3 linked regions of the Homo sapiens genome follow. The protein of the gene in region 3 purifies or fractionates together with the protein of the main gene of each other region. This does not show direct contact. Each region holds a gene or a part of one and is shown on either strand. Other genes may lie near its edges. The genes, in order: GNPTAB, AP3S1 and IGSF6.

The links.
Region 1: the proteins of IGSF6 (region 3) and GNPTAB purify together in Homo sapiens (affinity purification with mass spectrometry; 2 studies listed by BioGRID and IntAct, with this or other methods). This does not show direct contact.
Region 2: the proteins of IGSF6 (region 3) and AP3S1 purify together in Homo sapiens (affinity purification with mass spectrometry; 2 studies listed by BioGRID and IntAct, with this or other methods). This does not show direct contact.

The regions. Positions count from the first base shown.
Region 1 is NC_000012.12:101,824,577-101,835,803, forward strand, and holds the start of GNPTAB (N-acetylglucosamine-1-phosphotransferase subunits alpha/beta precursor), read right to left. Parts: upstream 6,384-11,227; 5' UTR 6,100-6,383; coding exon 5,983-6,099; intron 1-5,982. UniProt on the Homo sapiens protein: Catalyzes the formation of mannose 6-phosphate (M6P) markers on high mannose type oligosaccharides in the Golgi apparatus.
Region 2 is NC_000005.10:115,905,866-115,915,895, forward strand, and holds the end of AP3S1 (AP-3 complex subunit sigma-1), read left to right. Parts: intron 1-955; coding exon of another isoform or gene 956-991; exon of another isoform or gene 992-996; intron 997-6,223; coding exon of another isoform or gene 6,224-6,271; exon of another isoform or gene 6,272-7,490; intron 7,491-7,496; coding exon 7,497-7,625; 3' UTR 7,626-8,216; downstream 8,217-10,030. UniProt on the Homo sapiens protein: Part of the AP-3 complex, an adaptor-related complex which is not clathrin-associated. The complex is associated with the Golgi region as well as more peripheral structures.
Region 3 is NC_000016.10:21,648,495-21,658,866, forward strand, and holds the start of IGSF6 (immunoglobulin superfamily member 6 precursor), read right to left. Parts: upstream 4,115-10,372; 5' UTR 4,105-4,114; coding exon 4,038-4,104; intron 1-4,037. Other genes in the region: METTL9 (protein-L-histidine N-pros-methyltransferase isoform 1 precursor), read left to right, coding at 6,733-6,938.

The sequences.
Region 1 (11,227 bases), on a different chromosome or scaffold from region 3:
CTGCCTCAGCCTACCAAGTAGCTGGGACTACAGGCATGCACCACCACGCCCAGTTAATTTTTGTATTTTTTGTAGAGACAGGGTTTCACCATGTTGGCCAGGCTGCTTTCGAACTCGCCTTGGCCTCCCAAAGTGCTGGGATTACACACATGAGCCACCACACCTGGCCTCATCCTATATTTTTCAATTATCCCAGTTAACAAACTGGTTAATAATAAACTAGTTAATAAGCTAGGTCTGAGTTGGGAGTCTGTCACTTGCAACCTAGTGCTGTTAACTAATTCTAGCTGCAATGTTAAACCACTAGTAATTCAAAAAGAAAAAGCGATCACAAACTTCTCTGACATTACCAACTTTATGCTAAAATTACTCCCACCACTTCCTAAAATAATCTTTCCTTGTCTCTCTTCTGTTTAAACTCCTACTTGTCCATGAAGCCTCCCTAAAGCTCATGCCTCCTTGAAAAGGTGTCAGAACTGCCTCGAGGATGTTTCAACCCACAACATTCTTCTGTCTTCTGACTTTCTAAGCAATTGTTGTGTACTAACTCAGGCATTCAATTGCTTATTCCCCTGTGTTGTTATTCAGTCCTCATACATACATCTTGGCCTCATCTCAACTAAACAATAGCCAAAGGCATGAGCTATAATTATTTGTATCTCTGACAGCATTTTCCACTGTATATTCTGACGACAGCATCTTCCACTGTACAGTCTAACAACAGGTCTCAGATTTTTAGAGAAAGTTACCAGAGCAGGAATGACTCTCAGAGCATGAAAATGTTCAAGTTATATCAGATCAATCACATTTGAGAAATAAAAGGGAACTATAAACGCTACATCAGAGCAAAAAATTTACCTTTACTTGAAATAAATTTGAAAGGATGTCAGTTAAGATCAACCCAATTAATCAATCCATTCATTCATGCATCCATCAAGTATTTATTCAGCATCTACTGGGTACCAATCACTTTCTAGTGGCTAAGAATACAGCAGAGAATAAGACAAGGTCCCTACTTTGATAGTTAGCTGGACTATGTACCTCTCACAAACCCCCCAAAACAAAGAGACCCTTTAAAAAGGCTCTGTGTGGCCATTGGCATCTCTAGTATAAAATCCATTACAAGTCATGCTTCTCATGTGAAGTATCCAATAAATGTATATTCACAAAACATTAAAGCTAAAATGAGGCTCTTAGAAATATAGTCTCATAGTTTGTAAACATTTTTTAAACAATGAAACCTTTCCCAGAAAACAAGTCCACACGAAATAGATAAGAGGGGCTACTCCCAACCCACAAGGCAGCTGGGAGTAACTCAGTTTGGGAACCACTGAGGATCACAATTTGTGCTGCACCTAGGAGCAGGCCAGACGGTCCCCACTCTCAGGCCAGGCCTCTTTCTAACTCATCTGTTTGTTGCCTTTGGCCAAGAACACACTCAAATATATCTGTTTAATGAGTGAACTAATCAAATACAAAAATGATAACTAATTTCTTGAAATAAGGCCAGTATAAGACACTGGTCACCACTGAGGCTGAACATAACTTGAGCTAGACCCAGTTTTCAATTCTCCTTTTCACAGAAAATAACTCATTGATTCAAAATGGCAACAGAAAAGCAGGAAAGCAAAAGGGAGCAGAGAGGTCACGGAAAAATTACCATTCATTACGAGTAGATTCTATGTGAACCTATTTTGCTTCCTTATGCAAGTTAATTCTTGGATATTTGTTTCCATACTTAGTGCACAAAGGAAGTGATACGTTATACATACACCATACCCCCACACACAGATACACATACACATATACACACTGATCTACAACCCTCTATTAGTAATCCTGAAATCCAAAATGCTCTGAATACTGGAGGGGCTTTCAACTTTTTGTTTCTAATTTTTAATTTTTTTAATTTTATTTTTCTGATTTTTAATTTTTTTTTTTTTTCAAAACAGACCAGCCCTACCTAGAGATCTTTTTGTACCTTATTTGGCAACTAAACTTGACCTGCCCTGTACTTATTTGGTGGCAAAATGACTAAACTGACTTGAGGCTAGGTATAGTCTGTATTTTCCTGAGTGTGAAGAATTGTGGACTTGTATATAAATGGTTCGATTAAATAATGATGGCCCTGAAATAATAAATTTTAACTCAAAAACACGTTTTAAAATCTATACAGTAGCAACTAACAGAGAACAAATTATTTAAAAACCAGAAGTTTCTAAGCTAAAAAGGATCTTAAGAGCAGTCAATCTAGTAACACCATTTGTGGAGCTAACTAATTTACAATAGACTGATTACCTGCTACCTACAGTCCAAGGCAATGCATTTTTGTGACCACTAGTCCCCATTCTGAAGGCTCTCCCTGTGGGAGTTGTTTTTTTTTTTTTTTTTTTTTTTTTTTTGAGACCAGGTCTACCAGGCTGGAGTGCATGGCACAATCACAGGCACTGCACCTCAAACTCCTGGGCTCAAGCAACACTCCTGCCACAGCCTCCTGCCTCCTGAGCAGCTGGGACTACAGGCATGTGCCACCACACCTAGCTAACTTTTTTTATTTATGTATTTATTTTTGAGACAAGGTTTCACTCTGTCACCCAGGCTTAAGTGCAGTGGTGCAATCACGGCTCATGCAGCCTCAACCACCAGGGCTCAAGTGATCCTCCCACCCCAGTCTCCCAAGCAACTGGGACTACTCTACTTTTTTTGCAGAGATAGGGTTTCGCCATGTTGCCCAGGCTGGTCTCAAACTCCTGAGCTCAAGCAATTCTCCTGCCTCGGCCTGCCAAAGTGCTGGGATTACAGGTGTGAGCCACCACGCCCAGCCTTTATTTTTATTTTTTTTTGTAGAGACAGGGTCTCCTTTGTTTCCCAGGCTTGTCCAACTCCTGACTTCAAGCAATCCTCCAGCCTTAGTCTCCCAAAGTCCTGGGATTACAGGCATGAGCCACCTCACCCAGCTTGTTTTGTTTGATACTTCCTTCCCTCAATTCTACTTCTCGAAGTTTGGATGAATATAGAAAAGGCTTATCAAAATACAGCATCAAATACCTGTTATATTGAGAGGAGGAGACGATAACAAATTTACAGTTAACAATGATCTTCTGAGGGCCAGGCACAGTGGCTCGCACCTATAATCCCAGCATTTTGGGAGGCCAAGGCAGGCGGATCACCTAAGGTCCAGAGTTTGAGACCAGCCTGGCCAACATGGTGAAACCCTGTCTCTACTAAAAATACAAAAACTTAGTCTAGCGTGATGGCGGGTGCCTATAATCCCAGCTACTCCGGAGGGTGGGGCAGGGAAAATTACTTGAACCTGGAAGGTGGAGGTTGCAGTGAGCTGAGATCACCCCACTGCACTCCAGCGTGGGCAAGAGTGAGACTCTATCTCAAAACAAAACAAAAAAAACAATGATCTTCTTAGTCCAAAAGGACTTACAATTAGTGAGCTTACAATCCATTACAATTAGTGAGATTATTAACAAGTTGGTAATATTAACTATATGATCAAAGTATTCTGATTCAAGGATATATTTCAAAATAAGGTTTAAGGACATAAAAGAGTTGATAATATAATAGCAGCAGTAGCCATGACCATTTAATGAGGGTCTGTTATGTAGTAGGAACTGTGTGAGGTGCTTTACATACCCATCTTATTTAATCCTCATCAACCCTGCAAGGAAGGTAATCTGGCCTCCATTTCAAAGATAAGGAAGCTCAGAGAGGTTAAATATCCTTCCCAAGATCAGACAAGGAACAGCCTGGGCTGTTTGAGAAACCATAAAAAGGGGTGCTCAAGAGCACAGCTTAGGCTGGTCGTGGTGGCTCACGCCTGTAATCCCATGGGAGACCAAAGCAAGCGAATCATGAGGTCAGGAGTTCGAGACCAGTCTGGCCAACATAGTGAAACCCCATCTCTACTAAAAATACAAAAAATTAGCCAGGTGTGGTGGCACGCACCTGTAATCCCAGCTACTTGGGAGGCTGAGACATGAGAATCACGTGAACCCAGGAGGCGAGACATGAGAATCACGTGAACCCAGGAGGCAGAGGTTGCAGTGAGCCGAGATTGCGCCATTGCACTCCAGCTTGGGTGACAGTGTGAGACTCCATCTCAAAAAACAAACAAAAAAAAAAGCACAGCTCTGAGCCAGCCTGGCTTGGTTTGAAGCCCAGCTCTGCCACAAATTAGCTGGATTCTAATGCAAATGCATCCATTTCATCACCTATAAAATGGTTATAATAATAGCACCTATCCCACAGGGGTGATGTTGTGAGGATTAAATCAGTTAACATATGTAAAGCAATTAAGAGAGTGCCTGATACCTGTTAAGACCAATATAAGTATTAGCTATTATTATGATCATTATCAACTGGAGTCAGCAATCAAGGCCAAATCTGCCTAATCATGCAGCTCCTCTTTTCCATTATGCCTTACAAGTTAACCACAGGCCAGCTGCCTTCACCTCTCATGACACCTGTTGGCACTGTCTGCCTCTCATTTCTCTTGTCTGTTCCAAACCTTATGATCTGTGGCCATTTCAGGACTGCAACAAAATGTCTCTCTTTTGGTAAACAGCCAAGCATGGAATGAAAGCAAAAAGAAAAGGATATAAAATGAAAAATTCGGGCCAGGTGCGGTGGCTTACACCTGTAATCCCAACACTTTGGGAGGCCAAGGCAGGCAGATCACTTGAGGTCAGAAGTTTGAGACCAGCCTGGCCAACATAGTGAAACTCCATCTCTACTAAAAATACAAAAATTAGCTGTGCATGGTGGTACGCGCCTGTAGTCCCAGCTACTCAGGAGGCTGAGGTAGGAGAATTTCTTGAACCTGAGAGGTAGAGGTTGCAATGAGCCGAGATGGAGCCACTGCATTCCAGCCTGGGCAACAGAGCAAGACTCTGTCTCAAAAAAATAAAATAAAATGAAGAATTCTAACACCTGATGCCTTTAAGTCATCTTCACACTGCATGGGACTTAATAAACAGTTAACTCAAAATTAATCAAGGCCAAAAAAATCACACAAAAGCAATAAGGCACCTAACTACACACAGATACATTAAGTTGCAACACATGAAACAAAGACGAGCAAGTACTATAATATTAAGTACATATTTCACACTTACAAATCTGGAGCTTTCTCACCCTTATGGTAAGACATTTTTTCCCAGCCTCTAGAACCAAGAACTACTAAAAAAGTACATGCTCAGAATTCATGCCATATAATTTAGCCATTAAACAAACACTTGCACTGCATTCTCTGGCAGTACCTGGCACTGTGCTTGGGCCAGGGTTACAGTATTTACAGACAGCACCTTCTCTTACGGAGCTTACAATCCAGCATGGGTAAAGACTTCAAGCAAATGTATACTGTGGCATTTCTAAAAACTACTCTGTTAAATTTTAAAACCTTTTGTAACCTCCTACCAAAAAAAAAAAAAAAAAAGAAAAAGAAAAAAACTAAAACTAAGGAACAGATTTCAAACCACTTAAAAATACAGCTTTCCTCCCCGTTGCTAAAAGTGGCTTTCTTGGGCCAGGTGCGGTAGCTCATGCCTGTAACCCCAGCACTTTAGAAAGCCAAGAAGGGAGGATCACTTGAGCCCAGGACTTCCAGACCAACCTGGGCAACATAGGGAGACCTCCGTCTCTATTTTTAAAAAACGGTGGGCGAGGGAGCAATATCTAAAATCACATACATGCCTTTTTCCAGTTCTGACTTGCTCATAGTCTCTGCACACGTTTATGATAAAGAATACTGTATTTGGCCGGGAGCGGTGGCTCACGCCTGTAATCCCAGCACTCGGGGACGCCGAGACAGGGCGATCGCCTGAGCTCAGGAGTTCGAGACCAGCCTGGGCAACATGGCAAAACCCCGTCTCTAATAATGAAAAAATACATACTGTATCGGGGCATCGCGGGGCACGGCGAGGGCAGTGCAGGGTCGAGGCGCCCGGTCCAGGCTGCGGCGCCGCTACTCACCTCTCCGAACTGGAAGGCGGAGACGATGGTGACAACGACGCCCAAGAAGCACACGTAGAGCCCATACCTGTGGGACAGGCAGGTATAGGTCTGTCTCTGCAGGAGCTTGAACAGCATCACCCCTTCACCGCCACGCCACGCCCCGAGGAGCCTGAGCCGCCGCCGCCGCCGCCGCCGCCTCAGCGAGCCGCCATTCAGGGGCCCCGGTCGGGCCGCCGCGCGCAGGTCACAGCCTCCGGGCGCCGCTCATTGCAGCTCCGGCGACGGACGCCCGCTCGGCTCCGCGCCGCGGCCGCCGCTTCCGGGAGCCGGGAGCCCACGCCCTCGGCGCGGCGGAGGCGGACCTGCGGCCGGCGAGGCGGCCGGCGCCGCCCGGGTCTGGCCGGGCGAGAGGCGGCTGCGGCGGCGGCGGGGTCTCCAGCGCCACCTGGAGGACGGAGGGGCATAGGGAAGGTGCGCGCCCTCCCCACCTGCGCTTGCGCAGCGGGCCCTGAGGGCTGGGCTGGGAGGGGCGGAGCTGAGCTGGGATCCACTTACCCGGTTGGGCAGGCGACCAAGAGAAAACTGCCCCCTGCGTCGAGACTGTGCCATAGACGGTACTATAATGCCATGAATATTTTTGTGCATAAAACCTTCTCTGCACTTAGCATTCTCTGCAGAGTGCTAAAAGGAGATGCTGTATGTGGCTCCTTTCCTCCAACCCCCAACTATATTGTTTGAAAGAGGAAACCTTTGGGTTAAATCTGCCAAAACCGAATTTCGTTCATTCATTTAGTCGTTAAATATGTAATTTGTGCCTGTTAGGTGGCATAGTGCTTGGTGTCAGGTATTCAAAAATGAACTAGACCTGGCTACTGTTCTCAGAGAGTCTAGTGGGGGAGATAAACATGTAAACCACTAAATACAAGAGTTGTTATGATAGAAATCATGCGATGAACTGGAGGGGAACCAGCTCAGGGGTGGCCAGGTAATCCGACTTTGACAGCAGGTTTTTCCCACGAGATCCTTTCCTTGGTGCCTCTGATTTACGAAAGGGAGATCTTTTTCTTAATCCCAATGCACCCTAGTCAATAAGATTTTTTTCCTAGTCACCCTGGGAAACAATACACTTATCTAATGTTGCCATCATTCAAAGCATTTTTAAAAATATCTTGGGAACCAGCTTCAGGAAATACTCAAATTCGCACCCTCAGTTTGATGGTCAGGTGGAATTAACAGACTTGCAAAAGGGGTTAGCTTCACTCCAATCCAAGGCAAGATTTTTTACACTTTGCAGTCACTTCTTTTAATCCTTCTTTTAAAAAAGATGATTGATATATGCTATATGTACATGGCAAAAGATTATTGCAGTTGTACAAGACACATATAGTTCTGAGGTCTTTTCAAGCATGATAACAGATCTGAGGACTTAATCAGAAGGGGTAAAAAAGCATGGTAACAGATATAAAAACATCTGCCACTCAACAGGACTCTCAGGATAATGGCCAACATTTATGTAGCATCTGCCATGTGCCCAGCTCATCTAATCCTCACAATAATCTTATAATGGAGATACCATTATTATCCCCATTCTACAGATCAAGAAACTGTGATGAAAAAAAGTAACTATCTAACATCACACAAATAGTAAATGACAGAATTGAGATTTGAACCAGGTACTTAGGCTGTAGAACAGGGCCAAGATTAGGGGAAGGTACTGTGAAATGAGTCATGCAAGTTTGGAGTGAGATTCTGTCTTTGTTTATAGTTTTGATATCGGGGCTGGGTGTGGTGGCTCATGCATGTAATCCCAATACTTTGGGAGGTCAATGTGGGAGGATAGCTTGAGCCCAGGAGTCTGGGAGCCCAGAAGTTTGAGACCAGCCTGGGTAACAGACCCTGTTCCTATTAAAATAAAAAAAAAATTTAAAACGTAAAATAAAACATAAAGTTTGGGTGTTTTGCTTTTCATGGATATTCTTCAGTAATGTTTTTTGTTTTTTTTGTTTTTTGGGTTTTTTTTTTTTTTTTGAGACAGAGTCTTGCTCTGTTGCCCAGGCTGGGTTGCAGTGGCGTGATCTCAGCTCACTGCAACATCCGCCTCCTGGCTTCAAGCAATTCTCCTGACTCAGCCTCCTGAGTAGCTGGGATTACAGGCACATGCCACCACCCCCGGCTAATTTTTGCATTTTTAGTAGAGATGGGGTTTCAGCATCTTGGTCAGGCTGGTCTTGAACTCCTGACCTCAAGTGATTCACCTGCCTTGACCTCCCAAAGTGCTAGGATTACAAGCATGAGCCACTGCGCCCAACCATTAATTTTGATTTTTTAAAAATATTGCATTAGGCTGGGCACGGTGGCTCACGCCTATAATCCCAGCACTTTGGGAGGCTGAGGCGAGTGGATCACCTGAGGTCAGGAGTCTGAGACCAGCCTGACCAACATGGAGAAACCCCATCTCTACTAAAAATACAAAATTAGCAGGGCATGGTGGCACATGCCTGTAATCCCAGCTACTCAGGAAGCTGAGGCAGGAGAATCACTTGAACCCGGGAGGCAGAGGTTGCGGTCAGCCGAGATCGTGCCATTGCACTCCAGCCTGGGCAACAAGAGTGAAACTCCATCTAATAAAAAAAAAAAAAAAAATATATATATATAGCATTAAAATATTATTCCTCTTGATTAGTGAGTTTTTTGGAGTTCCCTCGGATTTTCCACCCAAGACAAGTGCTTCACTGTCCTCACTTTAGTCCTAGCCTTGCCTAGAACCTGTCCTTCTTAAAAAGTATGCTTTGTTGTAGTATGAATTACCCTTAAATTTTTCCTTTATCTTTAGGCTCCAACTAGACAGCCTCAAGGGAGGTCAGGAGCATTGTCTAAGTCCTTTCTTCTAGAGAACTTGCTCTTGTTCACTCCCTTTTCCCCCTCCTCAGGCAGTATGGTTGAACTTAAATAAAATAAATGTGGGTGCAATATGATATACCTGTAGTAGCTACCTTATACAGTTAGGAGGGTTATGTAAAATAACACATGAAAATGCTCAAGTGCCTGCGACATTTTTAGTGTTGGAAAAATTTAAGAAAATTAACATTTAGCCTTGTTCTGAAAGCAATGAGGTTTTCAGCAGGAGAATTAACTGATTAAATATGCACTTCAAGAACATTAGTAGTATGTAAATGCATAAGTTGTGGAAATTATTTTTTTAAATTTTTTGTAGAGACAGGGTCTCACTATGTTGCCCAGGCTGGTGTTGAACTTCTGGGCTCAAGCAATCCTCCCACTTTGGCCTCCCAACATGCTGGGAGCCACCTCACCTGGCCTGGAAATGATTTTAAACTCTCCACATCTGAACAGTGGAAAAAATATGCAGTAGCATCCCATTTATCTGGAAATATTTTATCTGGCAACCTAAAAGAGCCAGAAAAGCCAAAAGATCAAAAAGGATTCCCAGGAACCCAGTGAAACCCCTGAGTTTTGCTTTTAGAAGAACCCCACAGTCCCTCTCAAAATCTGATAAATATAATTCCGAGAAACTGTCATCTGGGTTCTCAGTCTATAGCAGATAAATAAATAAATAAAGAGGTCCCTTTCCTGCCTTTCTCCCAAACATGAAGTAACTAGAGAAAAAAATGATGTAGAAAATATTTTTTAAAAAAGTCAAATGAATTCCAAAAATGTAATCATCTTCACATCAATGATGTAGATATCTGTAAGAGCAGAGAGATAGAGTGAAGGCAACAGTACCTCCAAGTACAGTCAGTAGGCTAATATGGCATATAGTGGTGAGCTCAATCTATGAGAAAAGTTTAAGTAATGGTTAGTGTTTATTCAGCATTTGTGAATGAATGCTTTGTGCTGGGCATTTTATTGGACATTGAGTCTATCTCGTAATGACTTAGGTACCCCAATACTTGGGTACCAAGAAAGACATGGTCCCTGCTTTTGTGGGATTTACACTCTGGAGGGGCATATATATATTGGATTAGTATTGTGAGGGGCACTAACCTAGCCTGGGAGGTCAGGGATGGCTTCCTGGAGGAGGTGATACTAAAGATTGAGCTGGAGGACTCAAGATGTGGGGTGGGAAGGGAACTATGTTCCAGGCAAGGCTGGCCACATGGAAGGCCTAATCTAAGGCAAGAAGGGCTGGAGATGCAATGAAATGGAACTAGAGAGTCTGGCAGGATCTTAAAGGCCATAGCAAGAATGAAAGACCTTATCCTAAAGACAATGAAGAATTTTAATAAAGTCTAACAAATGACACAATCAGATAATGAATTTCAAGAGTTATCATAACTGTGGCGTGGAAAATGTATTGGAGGGGGCCTGAGGAGTTGAAATGAGACCAGTGATAGTAGAGTTGCCAGATAAAATACCCAGTTAAATGTGAATTTCAGATAAGCAGCCACATACATTTAGCATAAGCAAATCCCATGCAATACTTAAAAAGCTTTATTTACTTGAAATTCACATATAACTGTGTGTCCTGTATTTTTTATTTTATTTTATTTTTTTGAGATGGAGTTTCGCTCTTACTGCCCAGGCCAGATTGCAATGACGTGATCTTGGCTCACTGTAACCTCTGCCTTTTGGGTTCAAGTGATTCTCATGCCTCAGCCTCCTGAGTAGCTCGTATTACAGGTGCCCACCACCACACTCAGCTAATTTTTTGTATTTTTAGTAGAGACAGGGTTTCACCATGTTGGCCAGGCTGGTCTTGAACTCCTGACCTCAGGTGATCCACCCGCCTCAGCCTCCTAAAGTGTTGGGATTACAGACGTGAGCCACCGTGCCCAGCTGTGTCCTGTATTTTTATTTGCTGCAGATGTTCTGAGCCACTCTTGACCAGGCATGGGAATTCCTGTCCCTTGGCCCAAGCCAGTGCCTAGAAAGTGTATCTGAGTCAGGGATGAAGTATTAGCCTATATATCCCCTTGTCCATAGATGTAAAACAACATTCTGCAGTTAATTTCATTAATATTAAAGCTGATCCTCATCTGCCTGTATCTTGCATGATCTTCTCAATTGGTTCAAAACTCAGGAGACAATGAGAATGTTTTTATGTATTGGACCCTAAAACATTTACCATCTTTGAGTCTCCCTTTGCTTAGCCAGGGTGAAAACTGAACATCCAAAGAAAACAATCTTGCTCAATCAGGGACCTCTTGTCCCAGGCCTACACATATTTTGTGTATAGAAATAGTGTGCTTCAAAAGCCTCACTGTGAGGTCATAAGAAAATTAAAGAGCTTTCAGTAGCTGATTAA
Region 2 (10,030 bases), on a different chromosome or scaffold from region 3:
CTTGTTTGGCTGGGCGCAGTGGCTCACGCCTGTAATCCCAGCACTTTGGGATCACTCAGGTGATCTGCTCACCTGAGGTCAGGAGTTTGAGACCAGCCTGGCAAATATGGTGAAATCCCGTCTCTACTAAAAATACAAAAAAATTATCCAGGCATGGTGGCACTTGCCTGTAATCCTAGTTGCTCTGGAGCCTGACGCGCAAGAATCGCCCGATTCCGGGAGGCGGAGGTTGCAGTGAGCTGATATTGCACCACTGCACTCCAGCCTGCGTGACAGAGTAAGACTCCGTCTCAAAAACAAACACACAAAAAAAGACTTGTTTAAAATCGAGAATGTCATGATTGATGAAAAGAACTGGTTATCAATATTTTTAAAAATTATTTAAGTAATATCTTAGGAACATCATTTATATTTAAAAATCAGTCTGGGTATAATTGAGACACAGCTTTTTAAACATAACATGCATTTATCTAGGGGCCTTTGTCAGAAATCAGAGCTTTTATTATGTTGGTCTAAAGTTAGTACATTTCTGGTAATGGAAAAAAGTGAACCAGTTTAATTCCCAATACCTAGACAGGTGGAAGCAAAGCTCTGCCAGATCCTGAAAGAGAGAAGCAAAGATATACTCTGAATGTATTTCCATCTATTCTATTTTGATAGAAAAATGGTTTACTATAACATTGGAATATTGGGAGAGGAGGGTTTAAGCTGGGAGGTTGATGGGATTCGGGGGAAGTATAAGAGGCACTCAGGAACCTGCCTAAGAATAAAAGGACTCCCTGGGGGTGGAGGTAGAGGGGTGGGGTTGGGGAGATCTGTTAGCTTTTATGTATTTCATGTTATTCTTAAGATGGATAAATGGGTCTGAATTTAGTCACTACTTTTTGAAAGTCAGTCCTCTTTTTTTTCCGAACATCCTGATCTTTCTAGCTCTTTCCATTCTTCTCTCTTACAGACCTTTATCTTTCAGTCTCCCAGACAGGACAGGTAGACAAGGTATTGCTGACTTTGAGAAATATGTACTATAACAAAGGGAAAGCAAAATGATGTCAAAGGCAATTAATTATTTAGGCCAGACTCAAAAATTCTTTGTGTTAATAAACCCATATAGTCCCTGTAGCCTATTTTCCATTCTAGTTTCTCCTTGTAGTTTCTTCATCTTTTATTGGACTTAGTGTATTTTACTAGTATATCATTGATGTCATGTTTGTTCTGTTTTGTCTGCCTGCATTGTAAAAGGAAAGTTTAAATTTTTTTTAAACACTTGTCATCTAACTGACAAATTGCATTTGCAGAAGTGACAATTTACTTTGTATATAAAAACGTAAAATTTATTTTGAGCATCATATAGCAGAACCAATCTTAATTTAACTCTCACAGATTTGTTTTTTTTCCATCTCTAAATTAGGATTCTAACATAAAATTGCCTGCTGGGTTTTGGAAGCTGTGAATTTAAAAACCAAAAGCTGAACCTTCAGAGTTTTGCATACAAAATGGGAAGCAGTGAAGGCTTAGAATAGTGACTGTTAAATAGTACTTTTTCCCCTCAAATGGTTTTCAGTTCCAAAGTCTTAACAGAATTGCTTTTACAGTTTTGACCTGCAGGTGCATATTAACAGTGGCCAACAGAAAATAAGATCAGAAATCTTATAAAACTTGACTGTATTTCAAACTAGAATGCTCGAAAAATGGAATTACCAAATTACCAAATCACCAAAATACAATGGGTTTTCATTGTAGCAAACCTTCTGACATCCAAACATGTCATAATCAGAATCAATAAAAATATATTAATGTTTTAGTATTGAATTAAAAACCCTGAATATTTTTGCAAAGCGTATTGGCAAATATTGGAAATATTTTTAATAGACCTCTAGTTTTACAAAACTAATTTTTCTTCTGATATTTCCTGTACGTTTTTTCACACCATAAATTAACTGTGTGAATTACTTTTTTAAAAGTTCCATGTACGTGGTGATGAGCAACTATTTTGTGTGAAACCATGTAAGCAAAAGAAATGTTTATAAGGTCTCTGATTGAAAATTTCAAAATAAAAGTAATTTATTGAGTCCTATGGAGGAAAAAATGTATAAACTTACGAAGTTAGATTATGCACTTACTAATTAGAAAAACATCACTGAGAATTGATGATTGTGGTGATATCACAAAGCATTGCCTTTTAGCCACTAAATTTTTACTTACTCTCTCGATGTGTTTGAGAAGAAGTAGCAACATACAGGTGGCTTTATAGTATCTTATTTTGAGATTGTGGGCTATGTCACAAAACTGGGGTACCGTTTTTGGTCCCTCTATCCATGTTATTTTGTCCCTCATATAGAGAATACATAGTAGTCTCATTCTCACCATTGGTCAGAATTATTGCCAGTTTCTGTGTTACAGTATGTAATTTATTACTGCTATTTTCCAGCAAAGAACCATTAATCACTTGGGTCTGTTAACTTTATTGCTAGAACTGTTAATTGGCCTTTTTTAAAAAAAATCAAGTTTCTGTTTTCAAAGAGGAGAGAATAAGAAAAGTGGCTCTAAGGTACTGATGGTGGAAGGTCAGCTCATGAGCTGGTTCTGCCTCTCTACCTTGACATACACATTTGTCTTGTACTTCTACAAAATTATGGTGAGAACCCTTGAGGTCACTTGTAATGGTCAAAACTAGTAATGATAAATCCATGAAAGTCATTAGTCTGCTCTCTTTTTTTCATGCAGGCAAATCCTATGTTTGAAATTAAAGCTATAATTGAAGATAATCCGTACAAAATGACTAATAATTTGGAAGGTTTTTTAAATTTTTGAGCACTCTAATTTTGTTAAAACTGTGAAACACCATAGTTATTGCTGTCTAGAGAATTGTCATGAGCTTATCTAAATGTTTATAATTGCAGTATTAAAGCACTGCCATTAAAACAAAGCCTATTATATATCCCCAGATTAAAAGTTATTCTACCTCGTGTTGAGGGATTTTTTAAACTATTGACATTTTCTTTTTTGCTCAAAAACATGCTTTCAAAATCTGCCATTATTTTGTTAATGATTTTGAGTCTGAAACCATTTAATATTGTGTTTATTAATGTTGGTGTTCTTTCACTTTGCTGTTAGGTCAAAATTATGAATGTGCATATAGCAACTTCCAGCAGGAAGGGTGGGTAAAGGTTTTAATACGTACAGTTTGTTCCAACTACCATCTTATTATGCTGTATTCAAACTTGAAAAAAAAAAAGATATTTTAAGATGGTAGGATGGTATTTTATGTCTTAGATGAAATAAATAACAAGATTACTCTATTACTTTCCTTTTCCCTTCAAGAAAGTTGATTGTTTATTGCATGAGGAAAAGGGAGCTTTCAGGGTCTTCGAAATACATTTTAGTAATGCTGCTTTTTCAGTTTTGCTTGCACATATTTTGTTTATTTTTGGGTCTGGCAATTTAAAAACAAAATCAAAAACAAATCATATCCATCCATTACTATCTTTGTGATTCAAGTGCTTGAAATTTCCAAGAGTATGTCTGTATAAGTCTTTATCTGTTTGGCCTCATTTTGGTATACTTGCAGACTTCATTTTGTTTTCTTTCTCTTAATTCTGTTAATTTATTTAATCTCATGGGAGAGAAAACATGATCATTCTTTTATATACTGTACTTCATTCTTTCATCCAGTTCATATTCTTAACTGCTTTGGATTCATATATTTGTTTTTATTGGTGTAGTCGCTGCAGTTTTACCTGCCATGGTGGTGCTCAGGTATAACATAGATGGAAACAAGTTATTTCTCCAGTAGAATTTCATTCTTTTTATTTCTGCTGTGTGTCAACTATATAATCTTAAATCTTTAAGAACTATGTTGTACTGTCAGAAATATCTTACTTTTACGTTTAAAAATGTATTTACAGTAATCCCCCCTTACCTGTGTTGGGTACATTCCAAAACCCCCAGTGGATGCCTGAAACTGTGTATACTACTGAACCTTATATATGCTATGTTTTTTCCTATGCATATATACATATGATAAAATTTAATTTATAAAATAGGCACGGTAAGAGATTAACAACTAATAATAAAAGAGAACAGTTATAACAGTATAATGCAATAAAAGTCATGTGAGGCCAGGTGCACTGGCTCACGCCTATAATACCAACACTTTGAGGGGCCAAGGCAGAAGACTCACTTGAGGCCAGGAGTTTGAGCCAGTCTGGGCAACACAGTGAGACCCCATCTCTACAAATGTATATTTTTTACATTAGCTAGGCGTGGTGGGACACACCTGTAGTTCTAACTATTCAGGAGACAGATGGGAAGATCACTTGAGCCCAGGAGTTCAAGGCTGCAGTGAGCCATGATTGCATCACTCACTCCACTGTGGGTGACAGAGTGAGACCCTGTCTCTTAAAAAAAAAAAAAAAAAAAAAAGTTATGTGATTGAGGCCTTTCTCTATCACAATATTGTACTGCACACACTTATTTTCAGACCACAGTTAACCACGGGTAAATGAAACCATGGAAAGTGAAATTGCGGGTAAGGGGGGACTACTGTACTGCTAACAAGTCAGGTAAACAATTTCTGTAAGTTTTAGCGTTGAAAAGTTAAGTGTTAGTAAAAGTTATTTTGTTGCTTTGAATGTATCTTACTGGAAAAAAAAAAAATCTTAACCAAGATGAAAATTACTTCATACCTCTGTGTCAGCAAACTGATTGCCTAATGGAAAGTTACTTTACATTTTATGTTTTAATAAAAATGTTTCAGGCATCACTTTCATGAATGTCTGAAAATGAAATTTGTTTTATAGCCATTCTGGTGTTGACTGAGTGACATAAAGTCTTTTTTTTTAGCCCTAAATTTTTATATATAAACATTGCTAGCTGGTTTAAACATCTGTTGATCAATTGTCCTTATCATATTTTCTCAACATTTTATATTTTGCATAATATGATTTCTTTTTAAAACGTTAGTTTAATTAAAACTTAAAGCACCTATTACAACTTTAAATTTTCCTACCATTTAAATTCATGGCATACTACACAAAAGTATTGAACATGCTTGAGAAATAATTTGATCCTCCTAATTCATTTGCGTGTTCTGAATAGTTCCTATCTTTTGCATGTCTATGGCTTGCTGCTTATGTTTAGAAGAATTGTAGTTTGTTGTACTTAGAAACTTCTTTTGGTTTTACATATTAAGCACAAATATGCTATTTAAATCAATTGCTATATTGACTTTATGTATTCTTGTTAGCAGCCAACAGTCGACACCATCTTTGGTCACAATGATACAACTCAATCTAATGAAATTTAACAGGATGCATTTTTAAATTTTTTTAATTTATTTTTTGCTTTAGTTTAGCTCTTCATGGTACAGGATATTATGGAAAAGAGAGCTTCATGTACATTTAATACTGAAAACATTATGTTTACTATTTATAAGTGTAAACCATAGTGTCCAATAAAATACACAGATAAACACACACACACACACGCACAATTTCTCTCACAATAATAAAATCCCTTAATAATTCACACCTTTAAAATATTTATACTCAAATATTTTGTCAATACTTTTCTATAGTCAGTTCATTATTTGTCTTCTTTATGGAAATTCCTAAGTAAAAATAGTGGCAAATTGGTCTTTTAACTAGAAAAATTACAAAATCCTCCTATCTAAAAAATGATACTACCTCCAGGACGTCTGCAATTTTGTAAATTTTTCTTCCTTAGTAGACAACATACTTCCTGGTAAAAGAAAGCCAAAAGATGGTAAACCTCTTTGAATTGGATTCTTCTTTGATCCCAACCCACTCTAAATTTTGGTAGCTAGACCTTTAACTTGAAACGATCAAATTAAAGACCCTTTCAAATATTATACATGCTGCCTTAATTATTATTTAGTTGTATCTCCAACATCTTTGGGGGAGCAGGAAGGAAGGGGGGGTAACAAAAACTTCATTGCTTCAGGTAGGTATAAGTATAGAGGTCAATCACATTTTTAGTTGTACATCAAAAATAACTAACATCCATTAAATTATAAAACTTCTCCAGCCCTATTCACTATTTAATTGGGTATGGAGTTATTCATTTGTATCACTCTTATCATTGCCTGTGTAGAATATACTTATTATTAATACTATTCTACTAATTTTTCTATTATTTCCAATTCTGAATTGATAATCCATGGCTTTTATTTCATTGCTTAACAATGTTTGTATCCTTTATTTAGCAAATAGTTTACACTGGCCTATTTTGTATCAGTCAAGATTTTTCTCAGGTAACAGCTTTATTATTATTTTTATTTTAATTAACAAAGGTAGGATTACATAAGAAAAGAAAACTAAAATTATGAAAAGGGACCTTAAAGCTAGTGTTTCTAATTTTATGGACATTGCCATATATAATCTAATCAAAGTGGAAGATTCGTTTTTGTTGTCTATTTTTGTACAAAATGATGCCACTGAACTCAGATGTCTTTGTTGACTTTGCTTTATTATATAGCCTGAATAAAAAGTAATGAAATGTAATTGGTATATAAATTAAACCTCAAATATGAAGGCTGTTAACGTAGGTGAGAAAAATGATATGTATGCATTTTCTTTTATTTGTAAGCATATTTTCTTTTAAAATTATTTCACAAATTACAAATGTTCCTACTAATAGGAAAGCCAAATATTATGCACTAGTGGTACTTACTGGAAATTTTAGAATTCATTTATTTATATTTACTACCTCTTGCATTTATGCTTTTCTTTCTCTAAATTTGTAAACTGTAAGCTGAATATATGTTGCTGAATCTATGCTATATGACAAAACATTTTTAATCGTTATATTTTTACTAATGCATCAAAGGGTTGGAATGATCCTCTTCGTGTAGTTTCATCTTTAGGCAGAACTATATTCTTTGGATTGAGGCTTTACTTGAAAGCCTATTTTTTTAATGTTCTAGAACTTTATTAGAAAAGTTTAAAAGAGCCCTCACAATTTAAAAAACTAATTTTATTGTTTTAAAATGTTTTAAGGGTTTATCCCTAAGAAATTAAACAAGCACAATCTATTACTTGCAATTTTTATTTCACAGCACATATTGCTAATAAATGCCATTTTAAAAGCAAAAGAAAATCTATCACAATCGTTGCAAGAGATATTTAATAAGGAAACTAATGTAAATCATGCTTCATGCTATCTGTCAGTTAAATCAAGATATAGGTGAAGATTTAGGTTTTATCATGTGAATATTGTGTGGTAGTGCACATTAATTTGTATTTAAATCTTTACATTGTTATCATTGCATGTGTTCACTGTATTTTTTAATGTGTCACTGTTTTCTCTTTATAGATTAGTATTTCAAAGTAACCATTCCATACCAATTCAAACTACCATCTGGTCCCTAAGCTTGTTATATGAAAATCTTTTATCATTGTCTTCCATTGTAAGTGTTTTATGATGAGCTACACCTGAGTTGTACATTTTCTTTTTCTTTTATTTGCTTCTGTATACAGGCTGGCTTAGCAGGAGCTCCAGCCCGTGCTGTATCAGCTGTAAAGAATATGAATCTTCCTGAGATCCCAAGAAATATTAACATTGGTGACATCAGTATAAAAGTGCCAAACCTGCCCTCTTTTAAATAAAAATGTAAAAAGGCCACTCCCAGGTAAAATCCAGGGGGAAGAGTCATCTAAGTTTACCATGCAGTTGTTTACCAAAAATAGAGGAGGAGAGTCTTAACTTTTGCTCTTGGATTTAAGTCAAGGTACTGTATAGAAGTTGTGTAAAATCAGTATGAAAGTTCAATGTTGCTGTTCTTGCTCAGTGATTTTAAAGAAATTGAGTAGTTCCTATGTGATTTTTTTTTTTCTTTTCTAAACTGCATTCCTGTGCCCACCTACGGCATGCCTCTATGTATTGGCTACTACAGTGTTTTAAAAAGTGTTTCAGATATTTCTCTAATTATGTACAACCTAAAATGTTGGTGTTTTGTATGGATCACAAGTGCAGCATTCCTTAATTCCTTCTGCTATATGTCACACAGTTGTTATTTGGAGAACCAAGTATGTATTGCATGAAAACATTATGACTTTTTTCTCTTAGTTTAAATAAACTCCAAGGTAACTGGACTTCTAAAGCACCTTTCTGTTTGCCTGATATCTACTTTAGCAATAATTTTTTTTACAACCCTCTGACTCAACAAAGTAAATAAAAGTATATTTTATCACTATTAAGCAGATGTTAATGTCGATTTATTTTTTACTCATATTTTTAATATTCAGAAACTCAGTAAATTATTCGGAAACTCAATTATTTCACAAATCAAGAGCAGTGTATCTTAGGCATATTGCGCAAGATGAGATCTGGAGTGGGGGGGCGACAGTCTTTCTAAAATGTATATTGAGAAAATGTAAAATCTTTTTTATACAAATAGCTTTAAGCCTTGCCTCTTGTTCCTTCTTGCCCAGATGGTAAAAAATAATTTCAGCCAATACCTAATTGATTTTGAATACAAAAACCCTTGGGACTCTACTTGTCTGTTTCATCCTAAAACAAAGTTAAACTAATGTTTTCTTAAGTCCTAACACTCACATATTCTAGTTTCTTATAATTGGCCCACATTTTATTTGGTCTTCCATGAACTGTGAGTGAGGTTACTTTTCCAGTTAGACTAAGGTTTTCCTTACAGTTCTAGTTCTCCTTCCTCAAATATTCTCTTTGAAATACTTCCATAGACTTGCAGCATGTATGAATTTTACTCCAAGAACCCTAAGATATAAGAAAAGTTACTTTATTTTTTTCTAAATAAAATTAATCTGTCTCTAAGCTCTCCAGCATGTTAGGGTAACAGGAAATTTAATCTGATTATTGGGATTTCCATCAGCTCAGAGATAAGAAAAAGTCCTAGAGAAAGGTTATGCAGAGTAGAGCATTTCAGGAGGTCCCTGGTCTTTAGTCATTTGACAGTGTTTATTAAGTGTTTACTGTGCGCTCCCAAGTCCCTGTCTTTTTTTTTTTTTTTTTTTTTTTTTTTTCCCAGAAGGAGTCTCGCTCTGTCGCCCAGGCTGGAGTGCAGTGCGCGATCTCGGCTCACTGCAACTGTGCCTCCCGGGTTCACACCATTCTCCTGCCTCAGCCTCCCGAGTAGCTGGGACTACAGGCGCCCGCCACCACGCCTGGCTAATTTTTAGTAGAGACGGGGTTTCACCGTGTTAGCCAGGATGGTCTGGATCTCCTGACCTCGTGATCCGCCTGCCTCAGCCTCCCAAAGTGCTGGGATTACAGGCGTGAGCCACCGCACCCGGCCGTCCCTGTCTTTATGGAGCGATATCAGTAACACAGAGTGCCTAGCAGTACCCCCTCCCCTCACCACCACCCCACCCTTTTCCTTTTCTCGTTGTTTTTGGGGAAACAAATTATGGGAAGGTTAAATGTTGGTTTGGTTAGGATATGCCAAAATTAGGGAAACCTCTGGGCCAGAGCATACTTTAACTTCAAGAAACAGTCAAAAGTGTTTTATCTCCCATTATATTCTATCAAATACAATGCCCCAACAACCAACCATCCTTCCTCCCCTTCCATTCTCTCATCTCCCCTCCCTCTCTCTTTTCTTTCCTGCAGAAAATACTTAGCATTAGCTATGTGCCAGGCATTGTTCTGGGTACTAGGATAGAGCAGGGAACAAACTAGATTCTGTTGGAACATAAATTCATGTGGGGTGAAACAATAAATATATGATATGTCAGGAGGTGAGAAGTGCTATGGAGAAAAGTAAACCTGGGTAAAAGATAGGGAATAGTAGGGTTGGGGGTAGGAGCTGGGCTGTTGCTGTGATTTATAGAATAGGTAGGAGGAGGCATCTCTGATGAAGTAACATTTGAACAAAAACCTGAAGGAGGTAAGGAAGGCATCATGGGAACTTGTGGAGCAAGAGTAAATCCACATAGCAAGTAGCAGATGGCAGGGCCCAGAGGCAGGGGCGTGCTTGAGATGTTTGAGAAACAGCAAGGAGCCAACAGCAAAATGGGCAAGAGGGAGAGTGAGCTCT
Region 3 (10,372 bases):
GGTTGTGGACGTCTAGCCACAAGGTGTTCACAGAGCTGGGATTAGTCACCCACTCCAGTGTACTGTCCACCATGTGGTGCTCTTCCAAGTTATGAGGATTGAGTCCCCCACCTTGGCCTTTATATCCCAGGCATGTGAAGCTGGAAAGCCACTCGAGTGCACAAATGGAAAGACCCGCCCTAAACCCTTCTTTTGCGGCAGGGGAGGCCATAGGTAAAATAGTATTGGTTGAGACAAATTGGAATTTGTCAAGTTTTTGGTCTGAGTTCCGCCTGGTCATATATTCCCAAATGGTCCTATTTGTGTGAGTTTGTCCTTTGCTACTGTAAATGAAACTGAAAAGTCATCCAAGTGGTCTGATGCTTAATTTTCAGACAGGGGCTTTTTTCTCTTAGCGTTTCTCTTATGGATCCCCATTCATAACAGCAGAGGAATTAAAGTTAGAATCATGGCGTTTGTGATGCGAGTCTCTTCTCACCATGTTTTTTTGTTTTTGTTTTCATTTTTGTTATTGTTTTTGGACAGAGTCTCTGTCTCCCAGGCTGGAGTGCAATGGTGCAATCACGGCACACTGCAACTGTGACCTCCCAGGTTCAAGCCATCATCCTGCCTTAGCTTCTCAAAAGTAGCTGGGACTGTAGGCCTGCAGCACTGTGCCCAGCTAATTTTTGTATTTTTTGTAGAGACAGGGTTTCACCTTGTTACCTAGGCTGATCTTGCACCCCTAAACTCAAGCGACCCGCTTGCCTCGGCCTTCCAAAGTGCTGGGATTACAGGTGTGAGCCACTGCGCCTTGCTCTCTTCTCATCATGTTATATTTTAGTATTTGTGCAACATGAGATGAGCTGGGAGCTCTGTGGTGACCTGATAAATGCAAACCAGACAAGAGGGTGCAGTCACCTGGAGGAGGCCTGCAAGCTTCTCTGAGCTTCGTGTCTGTGGGAGGCCCAGCTCAGCTCCATCTCCAGCCAAGGGGATTGGATTCCCTCTCAAGTCTGAGAAATACAACCTCATGTCTCCTGCCCAGACTCAAGCACCTTACAAGTACAGTGAAACATTTTATAGTATATACTGAGTGGAAATTTAAAATGGAATTGGGTCTGCCAAAACTTAGCAAAGTTAAGCACTGTCTCAGTCTCAAGTCATCTTTCAGATAATGTTTTTATTTTTATTTGTAAAATTATTTTTAAAAAGTGGACGATTCCATTATTTACACATTTTTATTTTTGAGATAGGGTCCCACTGTGTCGCCCAAACTGGAATGCAGTGGTGTGATCTTGGCTAACTTACTGTAGCCTTTGTCTTCTGGGCTCAAGCAATCCTCTCACTGCAGCCTCTGGAGTAGCTGAGACTATAGGTGTGCACCACCACGCCTGGCTAATTTTTTTATTTTTAGTAGAGACAGGGTTTTGCGATGTTGGCCAGCCTGGTCTTAAACTCCTGGGCTCAAGCAATCCACTCGCCTCAGCCTTCCAAATTGGGTAGTGTTTTTAAAAGGGAAGCCAAAGAGCCAGGCGTGGTGGTGTGGCCATTAGTCACAGCTACTCAGGAGGCTGAGACCGGAGGCTGATTGAGCCCAGGAATTCCAGGCTGCAGTGAGCTGTGATGGCACCACTGCACTCCAGCCTGGGCAGCATTGTGAGTCCCTGTCTCTATTAAAGGAATAGAGTCTGGACGTGCACTCCAGCCTGGGCAGCATTGTGAGATCCTGTCTCTATAAAAGGAATAGAGGCTGGGCATGGTGGCTCACGCCTGTAATCCCAGCACTTTGGGATGCCGAGGCGGGCAGATCACCTGAGGTCAGGCGTTCGAGACTAGCCTGGCCAACATGGTAAAACCCCATCTTTACTAAAAATACAAAAAATTAGCCAGGTGTGGTGGTGGACGCCTGTAATCCCAGCTACTTGGGAGGCTGAAGCAGGAGAATCGCTTGAACGTAGGAGGTGGAGGTTGCAGTGAGCTGAGATTGTGCCACTGCACTCTAGCCTGGGTGACAGAGTGAGACTCTTGTCTCAAAAAAAAAAAAAAAAAAAATAGAGGTTGGGGTGGCGGGGATAGCTGACTTTCAACACTTTTCTTTAAAAACTAGTAGTATAGGATAAAAACAGGTATTTGTAACTTTGGAATTTCATATCTCTACTTATTTCCACCTTCTTCCCAATTAGGCTATGTGTGGGAGAAAACCAATTGTAATGATTTCCTCTGTGAGCAGGAACTTGTGATGAAACTGTGGTTCCCTCCCCCAACCAGTTAGGCAACCTATTAACAAAAAAGAGAAGTTTGGATATGTCACACCACAGCCTGCTTCTGTGAATGATTTCTTTTAAGAATCCTCATATTCTAGGAATTGTTTTTTAAACACAGTATCCAATGAAAAGGTTGAAGATTTATTTCCTCCATGGAGGGAATAGAAAGATTATTCTTATTATTTTAAAAAACCATATTGAGGCTGGGCATGGTGGCTCATGCCTGTAATCCCAGCATTATGGGAGGCCGAGGCGGGCGGATCACGAGGTCAGGAGATCGAGACCATCCTGGCTAACACGGTGAAACGCTGTCTCTACTAAAAATACAAAAAATTAGCCGGGTGTGGTGGCAGATGCCTGTAGTCCCAGCTACTCGGGAGGCTGAGGCAGGAGAATGGCGTGAACCCGGGAGGCGGAGCTTGCAGTGAGCCGAGATCTTGCCACTGCACTCCAGCCTGGGTGACAGAGCGAGACTCCGTCTCAAACAAACAAAAAAGCCATATTGAAAGTAGGAAGAGAACTAATTCTTGACATTTAAACAAAGCTGTCTCTCTATCTAGTAAGTAAGAAGTAAGTAAATGTCTTGCTCTGTTGCCCAGGCTGGAGTGCAGTGGCACAATCACAGCTCCCTATAGCCTGAAAGTCCTGGGCTCAAGTGATCCTCCTGCCTCAGCCTCCCAGGTGGGTGGGACTGCAGGTGCAGTGCAGGTGCCATCACGCCCAGCTATTTTTTTTTCTTGTGTAGAAATGGGGGTCTCATTATGTTGTTCATGCTGGTCTTGAACTCCTGAGCTCAAGTGATCCTCTCACCTTGGCCCCCAAAGTGCTGGGATTACAGGCATGAACCACCACGCCCAGCCCAAAGCTTTATTATATTAGATTTCAAATTTCTAACATATCAAAGTAGCGAAGTAGTACAGTCAACCCCCTGCCATCACATGGCTTCGACCCAATCTTGTTTCTTTTCTCCTCCCACCTACTCCCTCACTCCCATATTATTTTAGAGCAAATCCCAGCCATTTTATCTGCATCTTTCAGAATATATCTCTAAAAGACAGGAATTCTTCTTTAAAATAATGCTAATTAAAATAGTCTATGAAAGTAATATATACTTATTAGCAAAAAACAGGTTATTAAAAGTAGAAGCAAAAAGTCACCCATAGTCCTTTTGCCTGAAATAACTCCCATTAACATTTTGATATATTTCTTCACAGATGAGAAAAAATTAAGAACTTTCCCCCCTTCCCTGCCCTATAATCCAAATTGTGTGGGCAAATCTGAGATTACTAGATGTATTGGAAATCCTTTCTCTTTCATAGATAAAAAAACAGAAGTAGACAGAATTTTAAAAATAGATATACTATGGGATGGCTATTGGAGTCATGGCAGTTTTTTTTTTCTTAAATGAAAAGTACTTTTATAGAAATTGTTCTTTGAAAATATTCAGCAAATAATCATTTATTGCTTTCTATGTGCAGATCAAGTTTGTATGATAATTAAATTATTGATAACTTATACCTACGATTTTAAGAATATTTTCAACCCTTTGGTCAGATTGTCTCCAATTAGCATAATAGCAAAGAGACTTTTCAAGGTTAATATGAAACTTTTTCTCAGCTATTTTTTTATTGTCTATTTCTCAGGGGAAAAAGGAAACTTATCCTCTTAGGCAGTTTTCATAATGTTATACATTTAAAAATTAATCTGAAGGAGCTTAAAATATAAATGCATTAGGTGAAAAATAGCAGTTGATTTAAATAAAATGAAGGAGGAGAAGAAAAAGAACCTTACCGACACAAAATAGAATGAGATTGGTTTGCAGATGGCGAGCGATGTTGCTTCTGCTCGCAGTCCCCATTTCTGTGTATGCCGGGGCGGGTTGGGGTGTGTATTTGAAAGGAAAGTTGGCTTTCTTTTTTCAGAAGGGAAGAAGAGCTGAAGAGAGGAACCTCTTATGAAGGAACCATAATCAGGAACTTTTTGAAATTGTGCAAGGATGGCTTCACCATTTAACATTGAGATTTTGGCCTGGAGCACATTTAGAAATGTGCATATCTTTTTTTTTTCCATGGATTTTACAGTTGTCATAGGTGTTAGATGTTTCTGGGTGAGATTTTGATTTACACCTAGCACATATTTCCAGGAAGGAGTATTGTTTGACAAATAATTCGTACTTGGATTTTTCAGAACAGTTCAGTCACTGTCTAGGGTACCTGCTCTGGGTGCCACTCTGGGCCAGTAACTGCTGGGAACAAAGAACAGCAGAAGGAGAAGTGGCTTTGTGTAGAGATGAGAAAAGTTAGTAAACAACACATTCTAATGCAGCGAATAAATAAATTGTCTGTTATTAACTTTTTGTACTCCAGTTTTGAATCCAAAGACACCTGCCTTCCCCCCTTTTTTGACAGGGTCTCTATCACCCAGGCTGGAATGCAGTGGCAAGATTGCAGGTCATTGCAGCCTCAGCTTCCTGAGTAGCTGGGACTACAGGCATGCACCACCACCCCTGGCTAATTTTTTTTTTTTTTTGTAGATTCTGTGTTGTCTAGGCTAGTCCTGCCCTCAAGCGATCCCCCTGCCTTGGCCTCCCAAAGTGTTAGGATTACAGGTGTGAGCCACCATGCCTGGCCCAAAGACCCCCTTTTAATGTGTTGAGAAACAAATATGTGGGCCCTCTGTCCTCTGTGTCCTCTCCCCCAGCACTTAGTGGTGATTCAGTAAGGGTCTTCTTTGTAAAGCAGCAGAAACAGACTCAGGCTGACTTAAAAGGAAATTTATGCAAACATTTGAAGGTAGATCCTAGAGTCACTGGGAGGGCTAGTGAATCTTGTGTGGGGTCCACAGCCAGGAAGAATGCCTCAAATCACACCATAAACAGGTCTGAAGAGGATGCTACTGCCACTGCCAAACACTAGGTGCCATCAGCCCTGTTGTCAGCATCGCTCAACCACTGCCCCAGCCCCTTGGTCTCACTGCCATTGCTCCACCCCCAGAGAAGGAGAAGCTCACATCCCCACTACTCTGGGTCACTGGCTCTCCATTCCAGGGCATGGGCAAGTGTGCCTGGCTTAGGCTGCGTGCCAGTGCCTCAGCTGCACGGCAGGCCAGGAAAGCGGCTCCCAGGCCTTGTGTCTCTCCCAGACTCTGGGCAGGCAATTCCCCAGACATGGGAAGAGCGTCATCTGCACCACTGAAAATTATGAAAAATCTCCCCACCATGATATGATGTCTGTGCCCTTGGCATCTGCTCATGATATATTTTCTCATTAACAGAAAGTTATTCTCAGTCTGTTTTGTTTTTTTTTTTTTTTTTTTTTTTGAGACAGAGTCTCGCTCTGTCGCCCAGGCTGGAGTGCAGTGGCACGATCTTGGCTCGCTGCAAGCTCCGCCTCCCGGGTTCACACCATTCTCCTGCCTCAGCCTCCCAAGTAGCTGGGACTACAGGTGCATGTTGCCATGCCCAGCTAATTTTTTTGTATTTTTTTTAGTAGAGACGGGGTTTCACTGTGTTAGTCAGGATGGTCTTGATCTCCTGACCTCGTGATCCGCCCACCTCGGCCTCCCAAAGTGCTGGGATTACAGGCATGTGCCACCACGCCCGGCCTCAATCTGGTTTTAACACTTCAACAGATGTATGTAGTTTTTGTATCACCATAGCACCTAAAAAGTACCCCCAAAGTTAAATATACTGTCATCTCTGTGTGTGTGTCTGTAGTCAGTGCCAGGTTTGTATGTGAATTTGAGGACCTTCCCTAGTCCCCTTGTCCCCCAGGCATCTCCTGCTCATAGGTTTGGAAATGACTGATAGAGGCTTCATCTCTAGTCCAAGAAATGCTGGACGGTGTATCCATCCTACTGTTCCATCTCTCTCTGGTCCTGGAGCTTAATGTTTATGAAATTGTTCTGAAAAGGCAAAGAATGAGTCAACTTCCCTAGAAAAACTCCCCAATGATCTGCTTTTCTAAATTAAAATCCTTCATGAGCCTGTTTTTATTTTCAGCCTAATAAATCTCTCTAGGTAGTAAGTTGCATAAGTTTACTATGCCAGTGGTATTTTCTTGCATTTGTCCAAAACTGTCCTTCAGATATTACATGTTGCTCTCTGTTTCAGTATTCCAGCATTTAATGACCAGTTTTCCAAACCCATTAACCATTACACCCTGCAGTCAGTCTATTGGCAGATACTACCCAAAACTGTCAGAGAAGATAACAGTGTGGGGCCTTGGATCCAGACAAACCTGGGCTTACATTTCCATACTGACACTCATTAACCTTGCAAGCGTGGGCAAGTTCTTCACCCCTTCTGAGTCTGTTCTTTATCTGCCCACCTGTCTCAAAGAGTACCTGGGAAGTACAAAAGAGGTAACTCATGAAGCCCTCAGGCTTGGAACGTACCAAGTCCTTGGTAGATATGGCTCCTCCCTGCTTCCCTCTTTAAATCACTTGTTTGTTCAAGAATTTAACTGAATGTTCTTATTTGTATTAGTAGGTGGCAAGTGGGAGAAACCATCAGAAATTTTGGAAATCAAAGGACAGAACTGGGAAGAACAAGTGAATAGTCTGCCTGAAGTTTTCAGAAAAGCTGGTTTTGTTATCGAAGCTTTCACCAGACTACCATACCTGTGTGAAGGCGACATGTATAATGACTACTACGTTCTGGATGACGCTGTCTTTGTTCTCAAACCAGTATAAACACGTGGAGGTCGAAGTCTTCAGAGTCCGCACCCTCCGGGATGTGCCCTTGGAAGAGGGTCTGTGTTCACAATTACGTGAAGGGAGGACCCTTGGGGACCGCCATTCTAAATATCATGTAGGAATTTAAAAAGCCAAAATACTAATTATTTCTTTGTAGTGTGTAAAGGAATGTTTTTAAAAGACAAAAACCCAACTCTTTGTGGATTTTTATCAACTCTTTACTCAGAGCCACTCTCCAATGCAGGTCACACTCCAATTATGATGGAAGATATTTTTTATACTTAATTGCAGTAGGGACTCATTCCCAGACAAAGCAATAGTCACGACTTCATGGAACCAATCAATGGATTGTTTTTTGAAGACTGGCAATAAAGCTGTCCATTCAATTCCAAATACTGGTTTTAAGGTATAGCCACTGATATTCTTTCATGTTTAGAAATTCTTTCTGTTATTATTCAAGAAAATGTTTTTAATCATGCTAATAAACTTTTTTGGAGATGACTTTGGCATCATGTTTGAATTCATATAAAGCTCCCCTAGCATTTTTTATTGGTTTGGCTTCAGGAGTACCCAAATAGTAGCATTATGAGAATGACGCAGACAATTTGAATAGGGGGGAAGGAAGGCTTCAGACTTGGGGGAAGGGGAGATTATTGCAAATTGCAGTGAACACTGAGTCAGTAAAAAAAAAAAACAGAAACAAAAACCCAGCCTCATTCAGATACAGAACTTCAGGGACCCCTCCCCCCACCCCCCCAGTTAATGCTGCTGTGAAAAATGCAAAATAACCTGGTTCTGACTTTGTGATCACTCATGTCCCATACACTGAACTTTGTTTTTTTCTGGACAATCTCAGGTTCTCAGAATTGAAACATTCAGTTTTGTCTACTGACAAAATGCAACTAAAAATGTTTTAATTCAACTTCTTACTCTACACTTATATACCTCTCTCCCAGAGCTTGGCTCTTCCCTGAAATCCTTAAAGGAGTTTATTATTTGCCAAGAATATGGTTTGATGAAGACCGTGTCAGACTCATGCATTCTGGAATCCGTGAGTGCCTCCAACCATAAACCCAGAAATGCTGCCATAGAGGAACCCATTAGCAAGATCAATAACCATCGTGGATATTCCAAAGAGCAGAGCATTTAACCCAGAATCTGAAATCTCAGTAATAACAGAAATGTCAATATGAGATTGTGGTTATTAACAATATGTTATCCTCACTACTTTATTTCTTTTTTCATCCAGGTGTTTCATTAAGTATTCTCATTTATATGCTCATAGAAGTCATCAGATCAACACATTCACTCCAACACCTGGGTATAAAGGCGAATTAAAACCTGAAGAATTACTTTATTATTCATTAAGAACTGCATTCCCACATCCTCACACCAATATCTTCCACTGTTACTGTGCAGTCATAATAAGAGTTGGGTTATGTGATTTATGCAAAATTGTTATTGGTGTGTTCTAATGATTTTTTTCCAGGAATTCAAGTAAGTGAAGTACAAATACTTAGCACCATAGATTGTAAAAATAGAAAGAGGAAATGAGAAAACTTAATGTCGTTCTTGTACAGTTGAGTTTTGCTTCTTTATAAACTGTCTGTTAAAATCAGGGGTTGCTGTTAGACTGTCAAGCAGAAGTGATGGATGTTCAAGGAGGCAGGTTGCCCCAAAGTGTTTTCTAACTTTCAAGTAGAGAACTTTATGCTCTAATAAGAAAAATACAACTCATTCTTAACCACCCCCCCAAAACAGAGAAAACACATACATTTATGCATTTTAAAGATAAAAAGTAGTTTCTCAAAAAAATCTGAAGTTCTCTGAAAACCAGCTTATTAAAAGTGCTGTTTTGTGGTGAAAATTGAAACCAAATCCACTCACATTTCCTATCGGGTCTTGAAATTCTTGGTGGTGTGTCACCATTCCACTAGATGGCAGTGTTGCTTACTGAGTGTCAATGGCTTTTTTCCCCGTAAATGGAATCATGTTTTTCTCCCCCAAAGTACAATAAAGCTGCCTTGTCTGCACCATTCCTCGTGTAAGTGCTTCATATCAAGTTAAGACTGTACTAGAGAAATTAAGAAGAGCTTTATTTGTGGTAAAAGCAAGCTAACCAATTGACCTTAAAGGTTGAAATGCAAGCCACACCTCTGATTCCTAGCTCCCTGCACCTGCATTTTAAGCTCCTAAAGTGCTCAGACCACTGATCTCAGAGAAGGGGAGGAAAGGAGGTACAGTGCCCTTAGTCATTTATCCCTTGTACAGAGTAGTTAAAAGCAGTACTGTATTTTCTGCCATCCAGTGTGACCTGTCATCAGTTTTTACATGGTTGGCTTTTAACAGAAAAAAGTTGAGTTGGAAAATAAAGTGTAGATGTTTCAAGTCTTCCTGAGCAAAGCTTTGTTTTCACTTGGTTCTGAGTATAGTATTAATAGGCTATACTGCGTATGTTATTTACAGTATTAATGAAGCAAGATGTTTTCATTAATTGCTTCCCACTACTTGGTTACTGATGGAGGTGTTACATGATCCTTTTTCTCCAGCAATGTCAGTATAGTATCATGGGCTTCCAGTGACTAAAGTGACCTACCATGTTAGTGCAGATGCTTAAGCACCCCCAGTTACCTTATATCCAGTGCTTCCGCCGGCTAGAAGATAGTGCATGGAATCAGGGCAGCCTGGACTGAGTTGTACTGTCTAGGAGTGCACTGAGCACAAAACTGGGCTCATAAGTAACTTGAGACAAATCAGGACTATGTTGCCTAGGCTGGTCTTAAACTCCTGGCCTCAAGTGATCCTTCTACCTTGGCCTCCCAAAGTGTTGGGACTGCAGGTGTTAGCCACTGTCCCTGGCCTAGCACTCCCTTTATCTTGCAAAACTGAAACTATGTTCATAAACACAACTCTCCATTGTCTCCACCCCACCCTCTAGCAACTATCATTCTACTTTCTGTCCCTTTGACTACTCTAGGTAGTCATGATCCGCCCCATGATCCAGTCACCTCCCATATAATTGGAATTACACAGTATTTGCCTTTTTGTGACCGGCTTATTCTTCTTTTTTTTTTTTTCCTGAGACAGAGTCTCACTCTGTTGCCCAGGCTGGAGTGCAGTGATGCAATCTCAGCTCACTTCAACCTTTGCCTCCTGGGTTCAATCAATCCTGCCTTAGCCTCCTGAGTAGCTAGGATTACAGGCGTGCACCACCACTCCTGGCTAATTTTGTATTTTTAGTAGAGATGGGGTTTCGCCATGTTGGCCAGATTGGTCTCGAACTCCTGGCCTTGTGATCCGGCCTCCTAAAGTGCCAGGATTACAGGCGTGAGCCACCGCGCCCGGCCCATGACTGGCTTATTTCACTTAGCACAGTGCCCTCAGGGTTCACCGATGTAGAGGGTGTCAGAGTTTCCTTCCTCTCTTTTTTT